3 separate regions of the Homo sapiens genome follow, and all the other regions are linked to region 1. The links come from fine-mapping of genetic effects on gene expression. A gene starts in region 1. Each other region holds a variant in brackets. All regions are shown on one strand. Distances are between the middles of the regions. Region 1 holds the start of VRK1 (VRK serine/threonine kinase 1). Region 2 has its middle 53 kb from the start of LINC00618. Region 3 has its middle 13 kb from the start of LINC00618.

Evidence for each region. PIP is the estimated chance that this variant, and not a neighbour inherited with it, causes the effect. A credible set is the group of variants that fine-mapping cannot tell apart.
Region 2: its variant is the best candidate, but not a certain one, in a credible set for the expression of VRK1 in whole blood (INTERVAL, PIP 0.55).
Region 3: its variant is the best candidate, but not a certain one, in a credible set for the expression of VRK1 in whole blood (INTERVAL, PIP 0.87).

What each region holds. Positions count from the first base shown.
Region 1 is chr14:96,794,980-96,800,587 of GRCh38, reverse strand. VRK1 (VRK serine/threonine kinase 1) reads right to left here and starts at 3,206. Exons shown (of 13, transcript NM_003384.3): 1 at 3,141-3,206. RefSeq lists an enhancer at 2,349-2,880 and silencers at 2,825-3,114, 3,125-3,324.
Region 2 is chr14:96,887,562-96,893,169 of GRCh38, reverse strand. No RefSeq gene overlaps it. Among named protein-coding and RNA genes, the nearest start is that of LINC00618, 53 kb to the left of the region's middle. The variant T/AT (reference allele first, on the strand shown) is at 2,896.
Region 3 is chr14:96,953,710-96,959,317 of GRCh38, reverse strand. No RefSeq gene overlaps it. Among named protein-coding and RNA genes, the nearest start is that of LINC00618, 13 kb to the right of the region's middle. The variant C/T (reference allele first, on the strand shown) is at 2,697.

The sequences.
Region 1 (5,608 bases):
TACTGTGGCTAATAAAAATCTTAATAAATTTCCTGAAGAATGTTGGTAAAAGTAGAGCAGTTTCTTCTCATCAGTATTTATTGATGAATACTAAAAATCTAACTCCTAATATGGGAGAAGGGCCATCGCTCGTACCTCTCTAGATTTTCTAGAGAGCTTTTCTTTTTTAAAGTGTTGCCCATATGTCACTCAGAACAGGAGGAGTAGGATGTGCTTGAATTTGAGTGCAAAGATTTAAGACAACATTGGGAGAGATGGAGCAGGAGTAATTGGGAAAGTGCATGAAATTACTTCAAAACAGCAACTTCAGAATGCTGGGTGCTTAAATATCATTCAAGCACCAAAGGGAAAAAATTCAAAGGACAGAGCCCTCTGCATCTTTATAATGGCAAGTAGAAATATATTCACAGGAATTTTGATCAAAAGAGCCAAACTTATCCTAGAGTAAAAATACATCTTGGTTACAACACCTACCTAAATGTTTTATTAGGGTTCTATCACCCTTTTAAATTAATCTTGTACCTTTATTAAACATTTTCTACATTTTAACATTAATAGTGCAGTTTTTCAAAGGCGCCCTACACATTTATTGGATTATTCTGTGCTGGATGCTAGATAAAGTTAAAAAAAAAAAAAAAAAGACGTACACTAATTTAAAACAAAGAAAACTTGCTTCAGCAAAACACTACAATAGCAATAGACTTTGCACCTAGCACAATTCCTTGTAAATAGGGGGCACGTGATCTCTGCTGAATAAATGAGTCCATTTCTCCTTACTCCGAAAAATAACCCTGGCAAGCATGTAAAATATCCTACCAGTCTGAAAAATATTCTCCAGTCCTATTCAGCTACCAATCCATTCTCAGAACCCATCAAGAGCAATTTTCATGAAAGCCTCACTCACACGCACAAAGAGGCAGCATTTAATTCCCATTAGGCTCACTGCCTGATCTACGGAGATATAAGCATTTGCACATTTGCATAAATTCAGGAGACATCCTTCATTTGATATAAGGTAAATCTTAAAGCTTCGCTTCATTTCCAAATAAGTTTTATTTTTCAAATCAAAAATATTTTTAAAGTTTTATTTTTCAAATCATAATCCTAATCATAGTACATTATATCTTATTAGGGATGCTTTTAAGAAAAAAAAATATAGCTGTCAAAATTAAAATCTTGTTTTTTCATTTCTAGACATCTGGGACATTTCACTTATATATTTATTATTATTTCACATTAGTTCTCAAAGTTAAAAAAAAAAGCTGGCCTATTTCCTTTAAGAAATTTAATTTTAGGGTCTGTCAACATTTTGAATGCATTACTGTTATTTTTAAAATACACACTTGCATACTGGAATAAAACTTAGCATAAGCTTTCCATATAACCATTTCCTGGGCACTTACTAACTTACTATATGCCAGGCTCTATGCTTAACACATTACTCCATTATCTCATTTGTTTAACAAATATCCTCTCATAATTTTTGCAGCACTGAACATAACAAGAAGACATTGCACTATAAAACTGGTATTTGTACTGGATACCAGAACTAAATTGACAGTAACGCCTAACACAAGTTTATTGTTATTAAATTCAAGTTGTGTTACTGTATTAACACAGAATCTGATCAGCAATGTTGAGATGTAGAGAATACCATCTGTGGTAGCATCAACAGAGAAAGCTATTATTAAGTGACTACTTAAGTTACATTCCCTTCTATAGGTAACAGATGAACATAATCTTATCTACCCAGAAATTTAATTCCAATCACTACATGCCATTTTGAAGAACATAAACGTAACCTACATAAAATGACTATATAAAGAACCCTTGCTTCCTTCTGAAAATGCTTCAAAATTCTAGATTAAATTCTCCCCCAAAGTATCATGCTCAGCATGTCATAAAGAAAGGTGCCTTTATTGTCAACTCTTGAAAATAAATGCTGCCCTACTTTTTTTTACTCTTGAATTTCAGTCTCAACAGATGGGCAATTCCAGTTTAAAAAAAAAGAAGAAGAAAAGAAAAACACACACACAATAATTAATGAAGTTCTTCAACAGTTCCCTAAAACCAACATCCTCCCAATAGCAAATTGTATTTCCAAGTTGTTCCAAGAAAGGGACACAGGAAAGGGAAGGGAAGAGTCTATACAAAGGAAAACAAAAATGAGTGACTTGAAAGAAAGGACATCAGAAAAATGGGTGGCCTCAACAGGAACCTATAGTGTCTGACTCTGCTGCTGTCTGTCGAATTTAATTCTACCACCTAAGAGTTTTGAGACGAGAACCACAATACTATTTCGGTGGTAGGAAAAACTATGCGTTGCCCCTGAATGGAGCTGCAACAGTAAAGGATGCCACCCTGCCAGGTAAGGACAGAATGAGGAGGAACTGTCAAACGGTTATGAAAGTCCCTTGCAAAACACACAAGCGGCTCTAACTGCCTTGCACCAGACAGACCCTCAAGTACAGGATCACGGGGCCTCCCCGCGATGTGACAGGGAAATAACGGGCGGCCTCGCGGTCCCCAGGCCTGGCTGCTATCCTCAGGGGTCGGCCTCCCCTCTCAGGTCTCAAGTCAAAGGTCACATCCTCTGAGATGCCCTCCCGGATCACCTAACCTAAAGAGCCTCGCCCCCATTCCTCTAGCCCGCAACTGCCTGTCCCGTTTCTAAGAAAGCATTTCCGTATCCGCAAAACATCGCAGCTGCGTGTGTTGTTTCCCTTCTACAGAGTGAGCTCTGCGGGGCAGGGGCCTCGCCTGCGCTGTTCACCCGGAGCCCCGCCTGACAGAACCGGCTTCCCGGTGAGGCCCGAGGCGGCGTTTGCGAGCTCGGCCGCGACACCACGCGCGTCCAGAACGTGGAGCTCAGATGGGGGCCGGCCTGGCCAGTCCAGGCATCCCCGGGGGCGCCTGCGGGGCCTGAACGAGACAAGGAAGGAGCGGACGCCCGCGCAGGCGGAAGCCACGCGGCGGAGCGCGGTCCCGCGGGGCGACCGAGGCTGACGGCGACTCCCGCACCCCGGTGGACCCACAGGCCGCCCGGAAGGCCCAGTGCCGGCCCCAGCCCCGGCCGCCCGCCTCCGCGCCCCCGGCTCGGCGCGCGAGTCCTCGAGCCGTGTCGCCTGCGGCCTCCCTACCCTAAGCCGCAGACCCGTCGCGTTCTGCCCAGTACGAACTTCCCGCCGCTTTCGCCGACTCGTAACTCGGCAGCGGCGCCGGCCCCTTCGCACCCTGCAGTATGGAGCCTTCCCATTGGCTCGGAGGCGACGAGGAGGGGCGGGACGAGTGGTAACGCGAGGCGCGGGGCGGAGGCTACGCTAGCCCCGCGCCTCCCCGGGAATGCCGGGAGCTGTGGTCCAGCGCTCCCAAGGCATCCTGGGAGTTGGAGTCTCTTAGCGGCAAAGGGAGATCCCCGTCCTTCTGCTCCCTGGTCTTCTAGGAAATGTGGTTTACAGCCTTGTTCGTAGTAGCTTGATTTATTAAGTGTATTGGCAGAGAGTTGGGTGTAAAATAAGTTTCCTGTTTCTGTTAGGATTAAATGAAATAATCTATAGGCAGTACTTTAAACTTAGTTGGTGCTCAATAAATAGCAGATAGTGTTAGTATTATTCTGCCCACTCATTGATATGTGTCTAAATCCTACCTGTTTTTCGAAGCCTATTTCAAAGCATATCTCAATGTCTACCTAATCATCTATAGTGTTTCATCTGTAATCAACGTATGCCACAGTTTGCATTGTGTTTATTATTTATTTTTATTTATTTATTTTTTTGAGACGGAGTCTCACTCTGTCGCCCAGGCTGGAGTACAGTGGCACAGTCTCGGCTCACTGCAAGCTCCGTCTCCCGGGTTCACGCCATTCTCCTGCCTCAGCCTCCCGAGTAGCTGGGACTACAGGCGCTCGCCATCACGCCCAGCTAATTTTTTTCTGTTTTTAGTAGAGACGGGGTTTCACCGTGTTAGCCAGGATGGTCTCGATCTCCTGACCTTGTGATCCGCCCGCCTTGGCCTCGCCAAGTGCTGGGATTACAGGCGTGAGCCACCGCGCCCGGCCGCATTGTGTTTATTATAATCAGCTAAGTCTCCATCACCCATGAGGCTGAGAGCTTATTGGGCACTGGGTCATTGTTCTAGGTCAAAATCACTGAAGTCACAGGCAGAGGGAGATTAACAATGAAGCCAATGAAGCGTAAGCTTCAGGACCTCACTTGCGCAGGTCCCTCAATGAGTTTACATAGCTTTGGGGGTTTATTTGTCGATTTTACTTTTCTTTTTCTTTTTTTTAAAGATATAGTCTCACTTTGTCACCCAGGCTGCAATGCATTGGCGCGATCTCGGTTCACTGCAGCCACGACCTCCTGGGCTCAAGCAATCCTCCCACCTCAACCCTCCGAGTAGCTGGGATTACACGCACAGGCCACCACTTCTGGCTAATTTTTGTATTTTTTGTAGAGACAGGGTTTGACCATGTTGCCCAGGCTGGTCTTGAACTCCTGAGCTCAAACAATCCACCCCGCCTCAGCCTCCCAAAGTGCTAGAATTACAGGCATGAGCCACCACACCCAGCTGATTTTTCTTAAAGTAGATCCCCCAAAATTATGTGAGCTTCAGTCCCTACAAAACCTGGAATCACTCTGTCCATTAGACAGGGCAATATTGTGCCTGATGTCTTACATTTTCCCCTCCAGATACCCTCATCTGCTCCAAATACTTCTCCTGCCTGCCCTCTGCCCCAGGAGGCTGACCTCTACAAATTACTTCGCGCTCCCTGTGCCCCCTGGCTTTGGGGCGTGCCCAGTGGAGAACCCCACAGAAGATTGGAGGAAAAAGAAAGGTTGGTTAGAGTAGGTTAAGCCCCTGGATCCTGACTGGCAAGGTCACCTCCAGTTGGCAGGTCCCTCAGCTGAAGGTCACTGCTCCCTGGCCCTCCCTCCAGTTTGCGGTAGTAGCCCTTCCCTTTGTGCCTCAGGTCTGGAAGTGATGACATCACGGCTGCTGCTGACCCACAAGTTACTGCATCCTCCCTCGTGGTTCCTACCCCCAACACCGTTGTAAATAGTCTCATTGCAAATAACCTTCCTCAAATTACCCTATTTGGAATTATGTCATCTGCTTCCTGTTGAGACCCTAACAGAGCATGGGCAAGGTGAGCACTCGATAAAATCTGTCAGCAAAAAAGTCTCAAGATTCACACATCTCATGGGTGTGGAATCCCCCAGCAAGACTCTGTGGCCAGAATCCACTGAGAGAAAGACACACACACCCACACCCACACCCACACAAATACACACATATGTTAAGAAAACTTGGAACAGGACTTATCTGTCATAGTGTGACCATGTTCCCCTAACCTCACAATAGACACGTGAAGAAACATCCCTGTTTCCACACTGGGTTGACAATTGACTGACTTTAAAGCACAATTAAATCAGCAACAGTGTAAGGTAAGAATGGAATGTATTTATTCTGGAGCTCTTGGCCCTGGCACCCTTGATCTGATGGCTCACTGTTAAACACTCCTTACGTGCAGCCCTGTTCCAAGGCAGTTGCCGGCACCTACAACATCATCCACACATGCTGAGATGTCTTCCCAGTGCAGAGCATG
Region 2 (5,608 bases), 93 kb before region 1:
TAATGAGGCAATTTTTAATTCCAACAGAAGCAAAAAGTTTTACCAAAAAAGGAAACGACATCACAATACACTGAAATAAGTAATATCTACCTAGTTGAAACAATGTAAACCCTGACTACCAATTTATCTAAAAATACCTAATTGTACGAAAGGATAGGGGAAGGGGAAGAGTACAAGAGAGCTAAAATCTCATCTATCATAATAAGAACTCAATACTTAAGTTTTAAAATTGATAAATAGTAAATTCGTCAATGTGACAGCAAAACACAAAACTCAAAAATTGTATTTCTTTACACTAACAATGAATCTGTGGAAACTGAAATTAAAAACAATACCTGCCAGGCACGGTGGCTCACACATGTAATCCCGGCACTTGAGGAGGCCGAGGTGGGCGGATCACCTGAGGTCAGGAGTTGGAGACCAGCCTGGCCAACGTGGTGAAACCCCATCTCTACCAAAAATACAAAAATTAGTCGGGCGTGGTGGCGGGTGCCTGTAATCCCAGCAACTCTGGAGGCTGAGGCAGGACAATTGCTTGAACCTGGGAGGTGGAGGTGGCAGTGAGCTGAGATCACACCACTGCACTCCAGCCTGGACAACAGAGCAAGACTTCAACCCCTCCCCCCCCACCAAAAAAAAAACACAAAACCATTTACAACTGCTTCAGAAAAAAGTTAAATTCTTAGGTATACACTTAACAAACTAAGTACAGGATTGTATATTGAAACTCAAAGACCTAAACAACAACAACAACAACAACAAAGTATTGTGTTCATAGATCGAAAGATTTAACACAATAAAGATGTCAGTTCTCCCAAAATTGTCTGTAGTTTCAATACCATTTTTTGTAGACCTCAATTTCATTCTAAAATTTGTATAGAAAGGCAAAAGTTCTCGAATAGCTAAACCAATCTTTAAAAATGACCAAGCGGGAGGAATCTAATACCAAAGCTCACTATATAGCTACAGTAATCAAAACAGTGTGATACTGGCAGATCAGTGGACATAGAGCTAGCTGAATAGAAAATCCACAAATAGACTCATCTACAAATATGTCTAATTTTTTCTGATGGTGCAAAATCAATTCAGAAGAGGAAGAAAAGTCTCTTCAAAAAATTGTTCTGAGGCCAGGCGCGGTGGCTCACGCCTGTAATCCCAGAACTTTGGGAGGTCAAAGTGGATGGATCACGAGGTCAGGAGTTTGAGACCAGCCTGGCCAACATGGTGAAACCCTGTCTCTACTAAAAATACAAAAATTAGCCGGGCCTAGTGGCGCATGCCTGTAATCCCAGCTACTTGGGAGGCTGAGGCAGGAGAATTGCTTGAACCCGGGAGGCGGAGGTTGCAGTGGGCTGAGATTGCGCCATTGCACTCCAGCCTGGGCAACAGAGCGAGACTCAGTCTTGGAAAAAATAAAATAATAGTAATAATAAAATTGTTCTGAAACAATTGGACATCCATAGGCAAAAAGCAGAATCTTGACTCGAAACTCACAGCTTATATAGATATAAAAAAACCCTCAAAATAGATCAAAGCCTTAGATGTAGAACATAAAACTCTAGAACTTTCAGGGAAAATTGAAAAATCTTCAGAATCTAGGGCTAGGCCAAATTCTTAGACCAGACACCAAAAGCATAATCCCTAAAAGGCAAAGCTGATGAATTGGATGGTGCTCTCTTAACTATGGTCTTCAAAATTCAGCCCTCTGGGCAACAGATAGAACCTTCTCTAAGGAAATAGACCAGTCCAAGAGAAAAGACCTTAAGTGAATCACATGGTAACACGTGAGGTGCCTCCTGTACTGTGTGCAATGTCAAATCCTCTCTCATTCCAGACCAAGTGACGTCAGCCAACTCTGCCCAGGCTTCTACCAGGTTCCTGAAGGCCCCTCTCCTTTCCTTCTCTAGGGGTTGTATGAGATGCCTACCAGGAACATTGCATTCCACATGTGCAATTCAGGAGCATGGGAAAGTTAGCACCCAAAAGATCACACCACTGCACTCCAGCCTGGGCGACAGAGACTCCATCTCAAAAAACAAAACAAAACAAAACAAAAAACACACAGCAGGGCTGTTCTTGCTTTGTCTTCCATAGGAGAAGCCATCAAACTCATCTCTTAGAGAGTTTTGTGACATGATTTTTAAAGCCAGTTTTATTTTTATTAAAGCTCAATTAGTTACATATACAATAACATATTAATTTTACTGCATTATAATCTTAACATGGATAAAATGACCTCTCTTGTCCTTTTCTATCAGCTTCTGGTATAGAACAAAAATCATCAGAGACCATCCAGCTGTTGCTTTGCTAAGACATGTGAAGCTCTTATACTTTCATTGATGTTGCCTCAGCCATCTAGCCAAAGACTGAAAAAGTAAACTTGTATGAAAAATCCCATGTGAATATGGACTCCTAAAATGGAAACGTAATTTTAGCAGAATTACCTCCACCCAGATTTTGTCTGCCAGGTGGCTTTCAGTAGGGAAGATAACATCATCAAAGACAAAGCCTGATCACAGTTCTGGGGGTGATAGAGAAAGCTAGCTATGGAAGAATGGTCAAATAGAGGGAGATGGAAAGTATTTGAACCTCTTGTGACTTTGAAAAATTTAAGATTAAATACAATTTCTAATAGCTTCTGAATGGGGCAATAGAAAAAGCCATCATTTGGAGTCTTAAAAAATCTGTAGATTTTTGAAACAGAAAAACTATTCTTTTCAAAATAGGACACTGGCAAAATGGGGCAGGGTGGGGGTGGAGGGCTGTTTCAGTTGCACTGGACTGAGTCAAGGTGACAGGATGTATTTGCCCACTAGTTTCTCTCCACGTCTTCATTCCCAGGATACTAACGATTCAGAGATAAATGTACACTGAATGCACCCTGTACCAGTCTAA[T/AT]TTCTTTTGACAGCCTGCATTACAAATTGTAAAAATTTTTGAAATTAAGTACCTTTGAAAATGGAAAACTGAACTAACGTTCCAATTTGGAGGAAGGGGGACTCAATGTAGAAATTAAAATCATGGTAAACTAATTTGCCAAGGGTGGGGGAGTGTTAGAAATGGTCTTCTGACTTTAACCATAATAATAACGAGGACTATCAATTAGGCAAAGAGTGCTCTGAGCCTATGTGTTGGCTCCACTACAATTTTTTTTTTTTTAAATGTCTGGCAGAATGTTTTACAAACTAAACCCAGCGAGACTATAATTCTACCAGAAGGTGCCTCAGATGGTTTTGCTAATAATTTTGATAAGCTAAAATGGAGAAAAACATCATTTCAATTATTCACTTTTCAAAAACCATCAATTTTAAGTTACAATATTAAATGTCTTTCTTCCTTCCTTCATCGCCATCAACCAAATGAAACCAAACCCTGGAAGAACCCTCACCAAAAGGCAAAGGGGGTAGGCAGTGACATTTTTGAAATATGTTAGCATGCTAAAAATCTTGTCATTAATTTCTTGCCGCTCAGAAGTTGTGTCCAGTTTATGTGTAACTTTGAGGAGAGTAAGTTCCTTTAGAGAACTCGGAGGAAGCCAGCATTGCTACTGCCGCAAAGATGAAAGTGCGAACCACCATATATTGGCTTTTAATAGCCTTTTAACCAACTTTGTTAATGGACTGAATGCAATTTAGATATGGAACTTGGCGAAAACGTAGCTTCAATTGGCTATTAAAATTTAAGAGCCAACTAAGATAGCTAATTACAAAAAAAGCTCCAGTGATAATGCTAAGCAGAATTAGTAATAGCAAATGGCAGTCTGTCTAGTCTTATTCCCACAGGGAAAGAAACTCTTAACTGAGAAGTCAACCAGACAATGTGCAGCAAACCTAATTGCATTACTGGTATTATGGCATACGAATCTGGCAGCTCCCTGGGACAAAACAGGGAATAAAATCTGCCGAACTCGAGGCAGAAAGCGACTGACCCTCGTTTACATGCCAGTTAGAAAAGATTCCAGGAAATGTTATTTCTATTCAGAGTTGATGAGTAAATGCTCTTTTACTAAGGAACATTCCTGTAAAACCCTAGTAAGGACTGAGCAGTAAGGAAACAGACCTTCCAAAAAAGTTTCAAAGAAATAGATCCGACACCCACGCAGAATTAGATTTTTCCTTTAGATATTTAGGTCTTAAAAAAGGCAACAATAAACATCTGACTGCTAAAAAGTTGAGTTTAGAGGAGAATAATGTTCTGCTTTTTGCTTCATTACAGATACCCTCATTATGGCATCAGCTGAAGTGCAGACTGGCTCTCCTGTGAAGATTTATCATGTGTGGTGGCCACTTTGAATTGGAGGTGCTGTAGTCTTCAACATTCCCTAGTCAAGTGTCTCCCTGCTGTGCCTGTAAATGTCAGTCCAGTTTTTTCACGGCTGTGCGCACAGATTAGAAACAGCAGGAGAGCTTGGGAGTATGACTACAATACCAGTAAGGACACTTGTCTTCGTGGCACTGCTCAAGTGATTCTTGGAATGCAGGACCCTGCTGTTTTCTAATATTTACACACAACTGGAGTCATCAAGAGCAGTAAATGCAGTCTAAAGGAAGCTTGCTTCTTTGTGTTAGGGACTTTACATTCAAATAGGGGTATCAACAATAACATTAAAAAAAATCCATTTTAAAAACTTTCATATTTCCCCTCAATTTTGCTGCTACAAGACCAACCAGGTATTATCATGACTGTTCACTTAGCTTGACCCTCCCTTCCAAACACTTTCTATGTGCATCACACAGTTCATTGGGAACAGCAGGTGTTTCAGATTTTTGGCCTCAATTGTGTTTTTGCAGGCTGTGGTTTCTCTGACCTCTACAAGAACAGACAGGGCCTTGGAAACCATTTTGATGTAATTTCAACCACCTTTGCTTTCTGAACACTTTGCATGACATATCAGAGACTTATTTTGGGACTGTAGCACCTGGAATACAGACGGCTTCTCTTTTGAAAGTCTAGTTAGAAACTTAAAAAAAGGAAAAAAAAACCCATTGCAACTGTGTGCATATCTTAAGAAATGTCTAAATGACCCTACTTAAAATTATGAATGCTAAGGCACAATATTTAAAAAATGGCAAAAACTACAATTACTTTTGCATCAATCTAATACTTTGCCATAACTGTTTAATTATCTGTCAAGGGTTTCTGGACTAGAAACTTGGGGTGGGGAGGTACACAGGGATTAGATCATATACTTCTGCAATTACAATGTCAAGCAGACTGGGATGTACGTTATTACTTCTCCAGTTAAACTGATTCACATGTTTGCACCAAAATGTTCCATAATAGTTAACGAAGTAAATGAAGACGTGAGGCTGTTTGTGTTGGGGCAGGGGAAGGAGTAGGGAAGAACTAAAATATCCACGTCAAAGGTCTTCCTAAGAACCTTGGAGGCACATTTCTCGACCTACAAAAGTTCAAGAAGTAAATGTACTTTTTTCTCTCTTCACCGGACAATCTAATAGAATCACTTCCCAGTTGTAACTTTCCCTGGAATACACTGTCCTAGAACTTTCGAGTCCTCAGGCTTAGCTGACCAGACCCTTCAGTGGCTCTACTTTCACTTTTAAGTACTAACACATATTGGTCCCTTATGGGAAAAGACTACGAAAGTGTG
Region 3 (5,608 bases), 160 kb before region 1:
GCTTGCCTCCAAGCTTCTTAGGAACAGGGATGGGTTTGTTGTGGAATCCCTGACACCCAACATGGGCTAGCCCATCACAAGCCCCCACACATGTGCTGAATGACGAAGTAACTCCAGGTAGAGATTCTCACACCTGTTTTGCAGGTGAGGAAACTGAGATCCAGAGAGGATGTGCAATTTGTGCAATGCCAGGACCCGTCTCCAAAGTCCAGGCTCCATCCTCTCTAGCTGCCGCCTTCAGCGGTGCTGGGTATCATAGTGAGAGGTTAACGTTTCCTGTATGTTTAAGCGTATAAGCGCATCAACATGTTGTCTCATTCAGTGTCCATAGCAACCACAGCAACAGGCCTAGCATTGCATCTATTTTAAAGCTGAGGAAACTGAGGCACAGAGATGTTGAGCAACTCACCAAGGCTCTCGACAGGTGAGTGGCAGAGCTGGGATTTGGACCAAGCAGGCTGCCCCCAGGGCTCATGTGCCCACCAAGTGGGCTCTGCTACCTCCCCCAGGGGATAAACTTAGGTTTTGGAAGGCAGGAACACCCTAGACTCCCTGCCCTGTGGGAGGGGACTTTGAGGGGCAGCAGCACGTGGAGCCCGAGGCCAGGCATGAAAGCCAGGCAGGCCCCCAAGGCAAATCCAGGAGCCAGCACTTGCTAGCTGCGAGAACCTCGGGCCTCAGTTTACTCAGCAGGAACAAAAGGTGGGGAGAGGCTATGCCCACTTTGAGATGCGTGTCCAGCATTTGGCACAGACATGCAGGCACAATCAAGGTGATCTGCAGAAAGCACTCAGAACAGTGTCTGGTACAGGTGGAGTGTCCCTAAGAACGAGTTACCGCTGCTGTTGTTATTACTGTTAATGCTCTTTAACCACCCTCCCACATCCATGATGGAAAAGCTGAACCATCAGTACAGTGGGAGGTGATGGGGGTGCCTAGAGAAAATGATAAGCAGGAGCCTGGAGTCAGCACACCTGTCCCTAACCCAGTCCCATACCCCGGGGCAGGTTCTCAATCTGTCTGTGACTCATTCCCTCTGCCACTCCCATCCATGAACCAGGGACAGCAGTGATAACCCCCACCTCATGGCCTTGTTGCAAGCACTAACTGAGATCGCCCATGCTGTCTTTAGAGCTGTGCGGGCACGGGGGAAGCATTCCGTAAGTGCTGCCTGTTCATGTCGCTAGTGGTCGCAGCCTGGTCTGTCTTAGAACTTCATTAGGACCAGGCGCGGCGGCTCATGCCTGTAATCCCAGCGCTTTGGGAGGCCGAGGCAGGCGGAACACGAGATCAAGAGATCGAGACCATCCTGGCCAAGATGGTGAGACCCTGTCTCTACAAAAAATACAAAAATTAGCTGGGTGTGGTGGCGGGTGCCTGTAGTCCCAGCTACTCAGGAGGCTGAGGCAGGAGAATTGCTTGAACTCAGGAGGCAGAGGTTGCAGTGAGCTGAGGTCGTGCCACTGCACTCCAGCCTGGCAACAGAGTGAGACTCCATCTCAAAACAACAACAACAACAACAAAAAACTTCATTAGAAATGTCTGGTTTGGTCAAGTCCGTGCACTTCTGTTTCAGGTGGCTATGCCAGGCTGCCCCAGGCTGGAAAATCACACACAGCCTCCAGACTCAAGAGGCTCACAATTCCATGTGGATAAAAATGACCCCACTTAGTTCTTACATAAGGTTGGCTGTGAGCTGAGCCATGGCTGAGAGACGCAAGGGAAATTGCAGTGTTTGCCACTAGACCTGGACAGGGTTTGAGGGATTGAAGCAGGTCTCAAAGAATGAGGACAAAATGGTAGGGAAAGGGCATTCCAGGCAGAAGGATTTGCATACACAAAGGGCCGGAGACTGTTCGCAGATCACTACTAGAATATATAATGCCTTTGTGTAAACTGAACAAAAGCTACCTTGAACCCAGTGCAGGCATCCTCAGTCTAAAGTGTACAGCTTGATGAACGGGCATTGGGCCATATGCCATGCCCTACCCACCCCTTGGCTGGGAGCCCTCGTATACAGTGAACAACCTGACCAGCCATACACAGGGCTTTAGGTGTTCAAGAAAATAAAGACTCATTTGATGCTGCTGGAATGTGATGTCCATGGAGAGAAGGGTGCAATGAGAAGTAATGTTGGAAAGATGAGATGGGCCATCTCATAGAGCAGGATAGCAAACTGGAGAGGGAGAGCCAACTGGTTGTCTGTAGTCTATCAATCAGGATTGTCTGCCTGGAGCAGGAGGTGGAGTACAGAGAGGATGCAGGCGCAGATAGTTCAGAAAGAGCTGAGATTGATTAGTGATGTCTGTCATGGACACAGAAAGGGAAACAGCTGAAGAATCCGCACATAGCCTGTGCTCTCCTTGTCTCAGCAGGGATGGCAAGCTAAGGAATACCATTTTATTCTGGCGATGTTGCTAAGAGGATTTTCCCCATAAGAGGCTCTTCTGGGGCAAAGTTAGCCTGCAGCTCTGTGGGACCCCATTCTCCCTCACATTTAGCTCTGTCTTAAATAATCAAAGTGCAGGTAGGGGAAGGAGAAAAATCCACCCGCTGTGGTGGAATGAAGCTGCAGCAGCTTCACTAAGATGGGTCTGCCTCTGCCTCGAGTGCACAGAGCCTTGGGCACAGACACTTGGCCCCAAGGAGTCTGCGAGACGAGTGCACCTCTAAAAATTAATTTTTAATTGGCACAC[C/T]CTCGACACGGGAAGGAACAAAGGAGGGAAGGAGATGGTGGGGAGGAGCCTCCCTGAACAACCTCCTGGTTCCCCACATGGCCCAGTGACCATCTGAACCTGTGCTGTCCACTGAAGTGACCACAGACTCCAGGAGGCTACGGAGCACTGGAAACACAGCCTGAATTGAGTCTGAATTGAGATGAGTCTTAAGCACTCGCCAGCTTTCAAAGACTTAGTGTGGAAAAAAAAGAATGCAAAATACCTCACTAGTAATTTTTATATGAATTACATGTTGAAATGATAATATTTTGGATAATTGGGTTAAATTATAGTATTAAAGTTTATTTCTCCTGTTCCTTTTTACCTGGCTACTAAAAAACCTCCTACACATGTGGCTCGCTGTATGTTTCTGTGGGCCAGCACTGCTCTCAACTTTCCACAGGTGATTACGGCCTGTGCTGGGACCAGTCCCAGAGGTTTGGGCTCTGGCCACAAACGTATGTGAGGAGGGTGTAGCCCAGCCCACAGCTGGACTCCTTCCTCTACAGCACAAAACCTGCAGCCTGAAATCCCAGAGGAGAACCCCTGGTGCCTGGGGTACATGAGATTTGTGCTCTTCAAAGGAATCAACTTTATTTATTTTATTTTATTTTATTTAGACTATTTTCTAGAGCAGTTTTATGTTTGCAGAAAATGTGAGTGTAAAATACAGAGGCTTCTTGTGTATTCCCCTTGCCCTCACATTCACAGCTTCCCCCACTGTCAACATTTTGCATGAGTGTTGCCATTGCACTTGTTGCAACTGATCAACCAGTACTGACACCTTATTAATAATGAAAGTCCTTACTTTAGATTGGGGTTAACCATCTGTGTCATACATTCCATGGATTTTGGCAAATGGCATGTATCCAGCATTACAGTGGTGTACAGAATAGCTTCACTGCCCTCAAAAGCCCCTGAACTCCACCTTTTCATCCCTCTGCACTTCCTCCCAATTCTTAGCCACCACCCATCTTTCTACCATCTCCATAATTTTGCCTTTTTCAGAATGTTATATGGTTGGAATCATACACTAGCTAGCCTTTTCAAACTGGCTTCTTTCATTCAGCAATGTGGACTGGAAGTTTCTCCATGTCCTTTTGTAAGCTGACAGTCCATTTCTTATCTCTAAATAATATTCCATTGTATAGCTGTACCACGTTTGTTTATTCACTCACTTATCGAAAGACATCTTGGTTGCTCCTAGGTTTTTAGTTTTTAACAGATTTTAAACATCTAGATTCTTCAATTCTCATGTTATTAGTAATTTAGGAGAAGAATAAAACACAGTTTTGGAAGCGGTGAGTGGAACTAGGCCATCAAATACATTGACGGCAGATGTGCAAATCACTGCCCCTGTCCTCAAAGGTGTGTCTCAGATCCCCCAAGGAAGGAGAGGTCCAAAAGAGGCAAGTCCAGGGGGCTGGGATTCAGGAATGCCCCAGGAGCACCTGCTACCTCCAAACCAAACTGGAGATGCAGGACTCGCTGAACAATTGTGGTGGGGTAAAGGGAGGATAGTGAAGGGTCTTTCATCAGCTGAATACCAGCCAAATGCCAGGTGATCACCCACATTTTTAATCCCAACCAAAACCCTGTGGGGTCTGAATCAGTGAACTTGTTTTTCAGCTCAGAGAAGCAATGTAACCTGCCTGAGGGCACACAGCAAGTTAAGCACCAGAGTTGAGCTTGGAGGCCAGGCCATCTGACTCCAAAGCCATGCATGTACATTTCAAAGTAGAGTATCCCCTCCCCCACCGAGAACAAGGCCCTCATGTCCGCATCTTTGGGATGTAGTACCCAACTTCATCCTGGATCTTGCCCAAAATTTCCATTCCAACATCTTGTTACAAATGTAATTTCCATGAGAATACGAATCTTGTCTGTTCTTGTCACTACAGCATCTGCAGTACCTAGCACAATGCTTATCACATAGTAGGCACTCAGTAAATATTTCTTAAATGAATACATGAACAAATGAATGAATAGACTCACAGTCTGGAGGAGGTGAAAAAGGAGAAACATACCTGGCTAGAGCGTGATCAAGGGCAGAGGTACCTGATGCAGCAGGAACATTCAGGCGGGGCCCCTGATCCAGCCTGGGGCATTAATGGCTTCCTGGAGGAGGTGATGCTTATGTTGAGTCTCAAGAATGAGCTAGAATCCGAAGAGGCAGGGGAAGCAAACCCAAAGCAGAGAGGCGGGACCAGGATAAGTAGAGTGGATGCATAGAAGGGGAGACAGAGAGAGGCCAGCAGAAGCCTTGTAGGTCACCAGAAGAGTCCTGGAGTCTATCCCACAGACACTGGGTGATGGTTCCAAAAGGGAGTGCAATCTATGTGTGGGCAGAGGGGTGAGGCCCCATCACCTGGAGGGAGACTCTGGGCCCTGGAGAAATAGCAAACTATAAAAGGGGTGTGTGGAAGCATGCAATAGAGAGGCCACCTCACATCACGTTTGGCAGCCTCCCCTTAGGTGCCAATCAGACCTGGGTTTTGGCCAGCTGTGTGACCTCACCTCCAGCAAGACACGTCTCCCTCTAAAGCTGTGTCCTCACCTTTAAAACAGGAGACATGTGCCTGTTCCAGTCAGGGTTACACGAATTATCACAAGCACAGGGCCTGGCACACAGGAAGTGCTTGATAAATAGTAACAGTGGCTATTGATAAATAGGAGCTATTATCATTATTTATCAAACCAGCACATGGGATTTTTTTTTAAAGGTTGAAAAACACCACCCTAGGGAGCCATTAAAAGACTTTTAAGGAGGACACTGATGGGATCTGATTTGCAATTCAGAAAGATCACTCAGGCTGCTGAGTGGAAGATGGATGAGAGGAGGAGAGAAAGTCAGAGACCAGCAAGGAGGCGATTTCCATCATGCAGGTGAG